2 separate regions of the Homo sapiens genome follow, and region 2 is linked to region 1. Evidence: fine-mapped expression QTL. A gene starts in region 1. The other region holds a variant in brackets. All regions are shown on one strand. Distances are between the middles of the regions. Region 1 holds the start of LINC01593 (long intergenic non-protein coding RNA 1593). Region 2 holds the start of SULT1C2 (sulfotransferase family 1C member 2).

Evidence for each region.
Region 2: its variant is fine-mapped to the expression of LINC01593 in kidney cortex (GTEx, PIP above 0.99). The same link has a PIP of 0.9 or more in stomach.

What each region holds. Positions count from the first base shown.
Region 1 is chr2:108,049,575-108,054,955 of GRCh38, reverse strand. LINC01593 (long intergenic non-protein coding RNA 1593) reads left to right here and starts at 2,201. Exons shown (of 3, transcript NR_135071.1): 1 at 2,201-2,322; 2 at 5,171-5,381.
Region 2 is chr2:108,285,406-108,290,786 of GRCh38, reverse strand. It overlaps SULT1C2 (sulfotransferase family 1C member 2), which reads right to left and starts at 1,892. Exons shown (of 8, transcript NM_001056.4): 1 at 1,717-1,892. The variant G/A (reference allele first, on the strand shown) is at 2,213.

The DNA.
Region 1 (5,381 bases):
TAAGAGCATTTACCTTGTCATCTGGTTATAACAATTAGATCACACAGATAAAGTGCTTAATGGAGTGCCAGACACATAGAGAGCATGTACAATGTTAAGAATTACCATGATCAGAGAAAGGATTGCTTGTGAGCTGTAGGAAGGAGAGAATGTATTTTAGGAGATGATGCTTTGGGAGGAACTGCAGTTCCCAGAACATGCCTGTCTTTCCAGCCTCAGAGGCAAGCTTTAGAATCTGTTGCTCTGTGCCCTCTTCCCAGCCCTCCCTAGCCACACACAAGATCACTGCTTCTCAAATCCTGGATGAGAAAGTGCCAGTTTTTCTTTTTCTAAATTCCCAATCCATTGTAGACTACATCTTTTTATAAAATACAATTGAAAATAGTTATTAGAAACAAACAAATATAAAAACATAAAATAGAAGTCTGCTGATCACATTTGGATATTTGTCCAATTGCTCTAAAAGCTTCTTAATGCCTACTCTCAATTTTATACTTATCTTGTTACGATAACAGGCAGTTTATGAATTGACACCCATGCATGGTACTTGCTTTGAGGAGCACTGGTCTAGATTGTCCCATGACTTCTACTCTTCCTTAAGTCTCATTGAGGTGTCCCTTGCCCTCAGTGATGGAAGCTTTCTTCCGTCTCCCCAAGATTGGACCAGTTACTTCTCCAGTGCTTCCCTTGCACACTGTGCTTTCCCAGAACTTAAAGGGACTGTGTCTTTTTCACCTTCCTATTTTCATTGCTAACAAGACCTGACACACAACTGATTCTCAATAAGCACCAAAAGAATGCAGAATGCATTTATTTCAAGAAAGTAGAGAATTAAGGTGCATATTGTTCAACTCCGTAATTTCTAAACTTGGGTTGTGATCATTCTTGGCAATAATTAGACTCACTGCCTCTTTGGAAAAAATACTTTCTTGGCAGGAAAATGAAATTAATAAACAACAGTATATTTAGGCCCTGAGGAAGTCTTATTCATAGAACTTACCCAGAAAGTAGATTTTATTCATGAGCTTCAGGAAGGAAATTGAAGGCTTAATTTATATTTCTTTCTCAGAAGTAGATGTATAAATCTTTGGAAACTTTTTCTATCTTTGAAATATGTTGCCTTAGACAAGCCTTGATTCTGATGATTCATTGAAGACTTACTAAGAGCATAAATTGATGTAGAGGACAGTTGATCCAAACACCAACAAGGGATAATAGAAATACCAGCGGCTGCCTCACCAAGGGAAAAGAAATGACTTTTAGGGATAACTTCTTTTTCCCTTATGGATAAAGGAGAAGTGTGAAAATATGTTTCTATCTTCTCCATGTAGTTTTGGTACTACATCTTTGAGAGAAGAAATTGCTAATCTCCATTTAATAGAATAGGTCACTGAGTGGCCAAAGGAAGAGAAAATGCTGCTCATTTGAAAGGTTACCAATTTGGTTATCACTTTCTGGATGAGGGTCAGTATTTCCTAGTAATTCAGACCAAATAAATGTTGAAGATATGTCAATGAACTAAGCACAGAGCCTACTGTTCCTTGGCTTTGCTCTGAGAAGAGAAGCGATCTCTTCTTCACTGAAGACTTTTCATCTACCCCCGCCCCTCCACTGTTGTTAGCAGGGACATGGATCCAAGACTGGGAGGAATGAATCCCTCCCCATGCCCCAAACTTCCTGTCTGTAACTGGTAAATGGGGCTCAGGTTGTGCTTGTGATGCCAAACATCTTGGGACAGACCAGGAAGTCTCCTACTATTAGTGGGAAATTATGCACAATCTAATAACACAGACCCAGTGGCACATACCTTCAGAACAAGAAACTTTCAGGGCTGTGGAGTAAGAGCCAGGCATATGGACCCCTCATGTGTACACTGTACGTGACTTATGGATTGGGCTGACAGCTTTTCTTGCCCACGCATACAGCTATTTATTTCTATATGTGTATAGCTTGTTATGATTAACAAATTCAACATTTTATATAGAACTTTTATATGCATCTCGTAACTTTTGCCAATATGTTTTTCTCTCAACAGATAATGCAAGTACCATTGCTCTCATTTATGGGTTTGTGAATGCTGAGATTAAGAAGGAATCGTGAGTCTCTACAAGGTTGGAGACTGTAATGTGCCCTGCCTGGCTGGCTCTGGCTTCACACTCTGCATTGTGTGTGCAGGGAGCTTCTGGACACTCTGACGAGGATCTGGTTACCTCTGCACAACACAGAAGACAGGTTGAGGAAGACGGAAAGCTGAGGGGCTTCTTCAGGGAAAAATAATCTCAGCGTAGCATCCCTGTAAGCCTGTCTCCATCTTACTTGAAGGTGAGTTAGGGACACATGGAAACCCTTATGTCCCCAAACATCCCCCACATATGTTCTGAATGTTCCATGCTCCTGTAACCAGGAGAGCTCACCCTTCACTGTGGAGAATCCACAGTAGACTGGGCTCCAAATACCTGGTTTACGATGAAGCCCTGTTAGTTTACTGCCACGTTGAAGTGACACATCTCCCGTGTTCTTTTCTTGAAGAAACACCTTGATTAGAAGAGAAGGCGTGAGGTTTAAGGAATCTGGGAAGGGAAGAGAGTCCCATGGAGGGAAGAACAGTGTGGGTTTTTGTGCCATTAATTTAGATTTTAGGCATGATGGTTTTATGTCAACATGGAACAGAAGGGAGGAGTCAGGAACTCTCATCCAGCAGAACAGGATGGGGTGGATGGTGGTCTGCGATGGAGGCAGCGATTCAGCCAGGTGGGAGAGGCCCAATGTGTTAGTACAATTCCAAACGGTCCTGTTTGAGGCAATGGCTGGCCCTGGAGCTCCAAGCTGGCCCTAACAGCAGCATAGAAGTAGAGGCATGAGGCTGTGTGCAAGTGGAGAGCCCTGTGGGCTGCAAGTCAATGTTCAGGGCGTCTGCTTTGGAGAACAAGGATCTCATCACTAGATAGACTTTTGGGGACTGGGCTCCAAATACTAGGAGAGGGGTGGACACAAGCCTTTAACATCATGGGATGACAGCCAAAAGCCGAGGGAGATCATGGATCTAAGTGATTACAGGAGGGACATGTGGCAACAAAGACTTCTTGCGGGCTACCATGGGAACCCAGTGCATAGTACTGCAATATCAAGATTTAGGATGAAGATAAGAACTAAGTCTTGGGGCCATAATGATGGAAATGACAAGGCCATAGGCTGAGGCAATTTGAGTACAGCTAAATACTGCCCAGCCTGTAATTGAGTCTGTTTGCTATGGTGGTATTGTTACTGTGCCTCAGGACAATTTACTAAGGAGGGCTTCAGACAGGGAAGTTGGTAGTGATGCCTTCAAAGAAAGGAAGTCCTCTGAACCTCCACCCGATCCCAGGGAAACATGGCCAGCTTTGGTCTAAGACATTCAGCCTCTTTAGCATAGCAAAATGAAGCTATTCTTGTGTCCCTCTAGTGCAAAAGTTGTACATTAAGTTGAAGAGCCATATCATAGCCACATATAAAAGGTTTCTTTACTGTGGCTGTTTTCCTCTGTGCATAACTGCTCTTTGAGAAGATGGGAAGGTGGGAGCAGTGATATCACAGTAGGATTTAGGCATTTCTAGGTCTCTTAATTAAAATGTCACCAGAACTTCCCTTATTACCTCCTCCACTGTGAAACTCACCATGCATAATGAGGACAGGAGATTCTGCCACAGTTTCTGGCACTGGAGAAAATGAAGTGAATCATTTTCTCTTCAAATCAGCAAGATAGACCTTGTTTTTTACCAGTGCTTGGAGTGGACGCAAGGAGAGGGGAGGATCTTTTGGCCACCCTGTTCATCCTTACGACATTGGTGGAATAAAAAGAAAGAGACAGAGATAGAAGAAGAGGCCTAACCAATTATGTTTTCAAGATTGAGTCCCTAGAACACTGGGATTGAAACCTGACATGTCTAGGTCACTTCCATGGGTGATGGGTCCCTCCTGAGAGGTAGGGAGTATGATAAATATGTAGGATTAGCATTTTACTAGTGCAGGGACCTCTTATTCAACTGCTCTATCTCCAGAACTGAGGCCAGATCCTGACATATGGGAGGTCTATAATAAATATTTGTTGCATTTATAAGTGAGTGTCCTTTTTCTCTCAAAGGCTGACAAGGACCTCTGAAGACACATTTACTTACTCAATAGCTTCCATTCAGCTTACCATTACCAGCAATGAGTAGTTTATACATTCACAATAGTCCCGATAAAACAGCATAGCCTAAGATCATTGTTTCTGGAGAGATTTTGAAAGACTCCAGTGAGAAGCACTGTCTTCATTGTAAGTAAGTAGATCTGTTGCGACACTTCCAAGGCGAAGATAGCCAGCTTCAAAACCTATGTCATACTTATATTTTTGATAGAAGGTGTGTCTGTATAATAGCACCTCAAGGAACATAAGAAAGCATTTTCATTCTATCATATGAAATATACCCTACATATTTATCATTGCTTTTTTGGGAGGAATTAATGAAATCTGTGACATGTACCCAACAAAAGTTGAGGGTGAATGGAGTCACTGCTGGTACCAGCCACAGGGTGCTCTGTTGCTGCTGGGTTTAGAGGGGGTTGCTTCAATTTCTTGCTTTTTTTTTTTTTTTTTTTACCTGTTTTTGTGTCTTTCCTTCTCATTTTCAAGCTCTGTCTCTTCTCATTTTTTTTTTTTGCGTTTTTTTTTTACGTGCTATTTTCCTTTCCTTTTATATTCAGCTCTGTTCTGGAATTCCCCAAGTGTTCCTCCCCACTCCAGTAAACCGCATGCAGAGCAATGGCACACAGGAGGCATTCTCAGCTTCACATTTGGAATGAGCCAGTCTAAGAGATCATCTTCTTAGGAAGGGACAGAAAGGTTCTCCCTGAGGTTATGCCAACACAGAGATATTTATCAACTAGTTCTTACCACTAGAATTGGACATTATATCAGAGCAGTTTCTTGAAGCTGTGTCTAATATGTGTAGTCACTGAACAAAACTATTTGTTGACTACGTGACTGGCTACTGAATGTATATATAAATAGGCATGGTAAATTTTACAACTTGACATAAACAAATGTAGACTACTTGTAGTCATGCCAACTGAAAAGGGTGAGCAGCTTTTCAAAGATTCCATCAAATCTCAGGAAAGCAAAAGCCTCACATTCCTTTTTCTCTATCCCCAGGGACTTGCTTGGATTTCTCCAAATCCATCGTTTGTGTTGTGCCAGGCCATGACTATTTCTCTCTGTGATAAATACTTAATGCAAATGGCAAGCCATCCTGAGGGAGGCTGGCATCCGTACCTACTGAGAAGGCCAGCAAACAGTGTGTGAAGCACCGACGTCAAAGGCCATTAATGCAAATGCAAATTGACATTTTTCATCAAGGTCTAAC
Region 2 (5,381 bases), 240 kb before region 1:
TTTAACTGCCAGTGTGGCAGTGCTAGGACACGGGGTCTTGTGAGAGGTGTTTGGGCCATAAGGGTGGATTCCACATGAGTAGATTAATGCCATCTCCCAGAAGTGGGTGAGTTTGGTCCCTTTATACATGCCTGCTTGCCTTTCTATTTCTTCACCATGTCTTGATGCAGCATGGCCCTCACGAGAAGCTGAGCAGATGCCAGCACCATGCTCTTGGACTTTTCAGCCACCAGAATCATGATTCAAAATAAACCTCTTATATTTATAAATTACCCAGCCTCAGGTATTTTGTTATAGCAACATAAAATGGACTAAGACGGACATTATCGTGGTTTGAATTGTGTCTCTCTAAGTTCATATGTTGAAGTCCTAATTCATAGTATATTAGCATGTGGCTGTATTTGGAGATAATGTCTTTAAATAGGTGATTAAGTTAAAATGAGGCTGCTAGGATGAGACCTATTCCAATCTGGTATCCTTGTAATGAGAGGAGATTAGGACACACAAGGCAACACCAGGGATGTGTGCACATGGAGGAAAGACCATGTAAGGACACAGTGAGAAGGTCCTCCATAGGGTGGGGGTGAGGGGATGGTGAGTCCAATTCTGGGGTTGAGTCTGATGTATTTATGGGACTTCCCAATGTACACCTGTAGGCAGGTGTACATGTGAGCTTAGGGCTCTGGCCTTGAACTAATGCCCTGAGAATAATCCACGCAACACATTGACCAACTCTGTGGTAGGCGTTGTGCTCTGGGCAGGTAGCTGATGACCGAGGGCCTGGGCACAGCTGTGAACATGTGTGGAAGGGCACCTGCTGCTGCTGAGGACCAGGGCGGTTAAGGGCTTGGCTGTCCAGTGAACTATGGATCCCACTGTATTGCTCTTGTTGGAGGCCTGCACGGGGAGTGATAGAACCTGGCTAAAGCTGGGAGAAGGAGATGCAGCAAGAGATTGAGGCAGCTGGGTAGTGCAGTGGGAGCAGAGGGATCTGCCAGTTCCCACAGGAGAAGTCCCAAGTCCTTCTCACCCTCCCCAGGCCCCTCATTGCTGGGCCACATCAGCACATGGTTCCTGCCCTTGGAGAGTCAGGCATGTAGACACATACATTTCCCCTTGAGCAGCCAGCAGGGACATTTTCATCATATCAGGCCAGATCACTATGGCCTCCTTTGTGGAGGCATCCCTGACTCTGTAAACAGAAGTAATCACTCCTTTCCATGGGATCCTATAGTATTTTGTGTGCAAATTTTATAGGTCTTACTCCACGTCCTACAATTACTTGCTTATAAGTCTGGACCCTTGGAGCACAGGATCTGGTTCAGTCCCCTTGCAGGCCCAGCATGTGTCTTAGTCAATGGCTGGCATAAGAGGAGGGCTGTCATGGAAGAAGAAATAGTCTTGGCCAGAGAAGTTGAGCTGGCCCTGGAGGAGGATGGGACAGGGAGGGTATTTGGGAAAAGATCAGGGTGGGAGACAGAGATAGTATTACAGGAGAGAGAGCTTTTGGAGGTGATTTGAGGGGGGTCCTGAATTTCTAGGTCTGAATTTTTAGGCTGGAGGCTGTTAACAAAACTCTTTTATATTATTTTATCAGATTCTTAGGATCTTTTCTGGTTTGAATAAATGCATCTGTAAAGCCACACCTATGTGGCTAAAGGTTAAAAAATAAATTAACGAGTTAGGTACAGAATTTCTTTTAAGCCATATTCTTACCTTCAAGTTCCAGCTGAAAGTCAGCAGCTCAAAGGCCCACTCAAGGGTCAGTGGGCACGGAAAGGACTTTCACAGGAAGCAGACGGCAATTGCAGAGGCTCAAATTACTACTGTGTCAGAGTTACGGGGGCGCTCAGCAGGTAGCCAGCACTTTGGGAGGCTCTCAGCTTCAGTGTGGGAAGTTGAAGCTTTTACTGGAAGAATCCGGATTGAACAGAAACAAACCCTGTGACCTGGCCCTGGGAGGGAGAACTTCTCACTGTACCATGATCACTCATGTGACCCTGACTGCTGTGCAAATACCAACTCCCTCTAGTTCATATGAACTAAGGGCACACTCTACTCCTCCTCTCGGTCACCAGCTAGAGTTTTTCACATCTTTCCTGGCCCTCAGCTGCCTGGCCCCTCCCTCCTCCCACTGGCCTCGAAGCTTAAACAGGTGGGGGCTGGGGGGAAATGGAAGGTTGGCTCTAGGACCAGATGCATCAGGCTTCAG[G/A]TAGGCTCCTGCTTATTTGGTGAACTCCCTTTTCCTTCCTCCTTAGCCTGAGATTTAATTTCTGCATCTATGAAGTGTGGGTAATACTGCCTGTCTCCAATCCATGCTTTAAGATTGAAAGCAACAATGTTGATGAATACACTTTGCAGAGCAAATAGTAAGTGCTTAAAACTGCTGGTTCTTCTTTCCTTTCTTCCCAAGTTGTATTCATCCACACCGAAAATGCAGAGAGGATAGAACAAAAGTCTAGAGCTTAGGTGTGTACTTATTTTTTCTTTGCCTTATTGTACAAAAGGTACACTTTAGTGGAGGCAGATTATATTCCATGGTGTCTTTGGTTACCTGGGAAATTAAATGGATCAAGTGTTAATGATCTCTGAACTGCTACTCTTCTGCCAGCCCCAACCTTGTATCTACCCCAGTGCTTTCCTTTCTGGAATTGAAGCATAATTCTGCACCCCATCTGCCCTTCTTGCCAAAGCTTTCCTTGTCTTCTTTGACCCTGAACCTCCTAATGCTTCTTTGCCGACACTTCTTCTTCCTCCTTGTTTCCAAAGGGCTCTTTTTTTCCCAATAAATTGAACTTTCTTTTTCTTTCTTTTTTCTTTTTTTTTTTTTTTTTGAGATGGTGTTTCACTCCTGTTGCCCAGGCTGGAGTGCAATGGTGCAATCTTGGCTCACTGCAACCTCCGCCTCCCGGGTTCAAGCGATTCTCCTGTCTCAGCCTCCTGAGTAGCTGGGACTACAGGCGTGCGCCACCATGCCCAGCTAATTTTTTTTTGGTATTTTTAGTAGAGACGGGGTCTCACCATGTTGGCCAGGCTAGTCTCCAACTCCTGCTCCCAGGTGATCTGCCCGCCTTGACCTCCCAAAGTGCTGGGATTACAGGCATAAGCCACTGCGCCCGGCTGAACTTTATTTTTCTACTTCTGCTCTCTTTCCAGTTCCACTTATCCCAGTGCTGTCAATTTTCAGCCCCATAGGGCTGATTCACAGTTCTTAGTGCAACCTCACATTTTCTCTGCAGTTAAAGTCCCTAAGTCTACTAAAGTGTCTGCCAGTATCGGTGCCATGCTGCGCTGCATGCTGCATCTCCCTGCCTTTGCTGTCTGCATGGGTCACAGTCTCTACAATCCCAGAATTTACAGTTAGTAACCACTGCTAGTATCTGCTTCCTCCACATTTGTGGAGGATGAACTGGGATGTTGCACAATCTTCTAGCAGTCTCCTTATTTCTGGTCTCTTCCCTACTAGTCTCTCATACTTTCAGCATATAAATTAAGCTCAGCTCAGATCAGGCTATCCTTTGGTTGTTTATGGCTCAAATTCTGGGTGCTTCCACTTGGAATTCAAGACCTTCTAAATTCATTAATTCTTATTTTTTATAAGACAGGGTCTCACTCTTTTGCCCAGGCTGGAGTGAAGAGGCATGATCATAGCTCACTGCAGCCTTGACCTCCTGAGCTCAAGTGATCCTCCTACTTCAAGCCTCCTGAATGCCTGGCTCAAGGCCTTCTTTAATATAACACCATCCCCACCATGGGCCCCACACACCAGGTGAACTGAATGACTTACTGTCCCCTGTATGCATCCTATAATTTCCTGCCTCCCTGGTTTACTCCTGTTTCTCCCTGCCAAAAATGCTCTTACTCTTAGCCTGGCACACTGCTGTGCACCTGTAATCCCAGTTACTTGAGTCCAGCCTGGGCAACATAGTGAGATCCCATCTCTAAAAAAATGTTCTTACTCTGTTTCCATAGAGTCAGATTCTTCAGCTTTGAACCCATCTTTTCCTTGAAGCCTTTCCTTAGGTTATAGCTGGAAGCAATCTCTCTGTGAACTACCATATGCTTTTTTAAAAATAAGTTTTATTGAGATCAAATTCACATACTGTGCACTTCACCCAAGTGTACAGTTCAATGTTTTTAGTTGTGCAACCATCATCACACTCAATTTTGGAATATTTTCATCACCCCAAAATGAAACCCCATATTTATTAATAGTCATGCCTAATTCCTCCTACCACCATCTCCAGCTTTAAGAAACCAAAATCTACTTTGTGTCTCTATAGACTTGTCTATTGTGGACATTTTATATAAATTGAATCATACAATGTGTGGTCCATAGGATTAATTTGGCCTTCTCTTACAGCAATTTTCTGTTTTTACTTGAATGAGGAAATTAACTACCCTCCCAGTGTGTCGATTGGGGCCTATCTCTAAGACCACCTGTACCATGTACCCATTCAACTGGATTAATATACTTACTGAATGAATAAACAAATGAATGAAACAAAAACTTTAGTTTTCACCGGGACTGGGACTTGAATGAGGGAACTAAGGTGCAAAATGTAAGGAGACACTCGCTCCAGGGCCGTGCAAGAGAATGAATGCCTCCTTCAATGCTATGCCCTTACCTCACCCTAGTCCCTGCCCTGGTTTATACATAATCCATCCACATGGATTTTTCCCTGATTTGTGATTCATGTACCTCTGGAACTTTCTGAGCTGTTTCTGAGAACCAGGTAAAGTGTGCCTTCTTTGGAGTTAGGGGAATGTCTACACGGCAGCCTCTGTCCCGCTAGAAAGACCAAAGTCACTATTGCCTCCTGGAAGAGTTTTGTGAGGGATCTGATCATGGTTTTCAATTGGGAAAAGTAGCCAAGCTGCTTTGTGCCACTGGCACAAAGTGGAAGGTGCCTGTGTTCCAGCAGGCTGGCTTTGAGGAGCAGCGGGAGCAAAGGTCTCCCCCCGGGACATAGCCATTCCTTCTGGGTGCTATGTCCTACAGCTGCAACTGCTTCAGGCAAGCTTTGTAACACTTGCCTCAGTCACACAGATCCTTTGACCAAGTCCACAAGAGAGCAGATGAGCTCTTTCCTGCAGGTGGTGAGGTACTAGGTGGGCAAACTCTGACTCCTTTGTAACTTCATGGATCTCGCTTATTATCCAGGAAACTGGCTCAGCATTCTCCTGGCTTGTGCTCCCTTGTCGTTTAAATTTTTTTCCTTCTGTTTTTGACCATCCGCAATTCACATAATTACATGTCTCTCAAGCCATTTTTCTTACTTTGCAATGCTCATTGGCTTTAATTCTCCCTTTCTCTTTTCTTGTCTAATTCTTGTCCAGTCACCCAGGGAAAGATGGAACAAGTCTTTTTCTCCCTCACT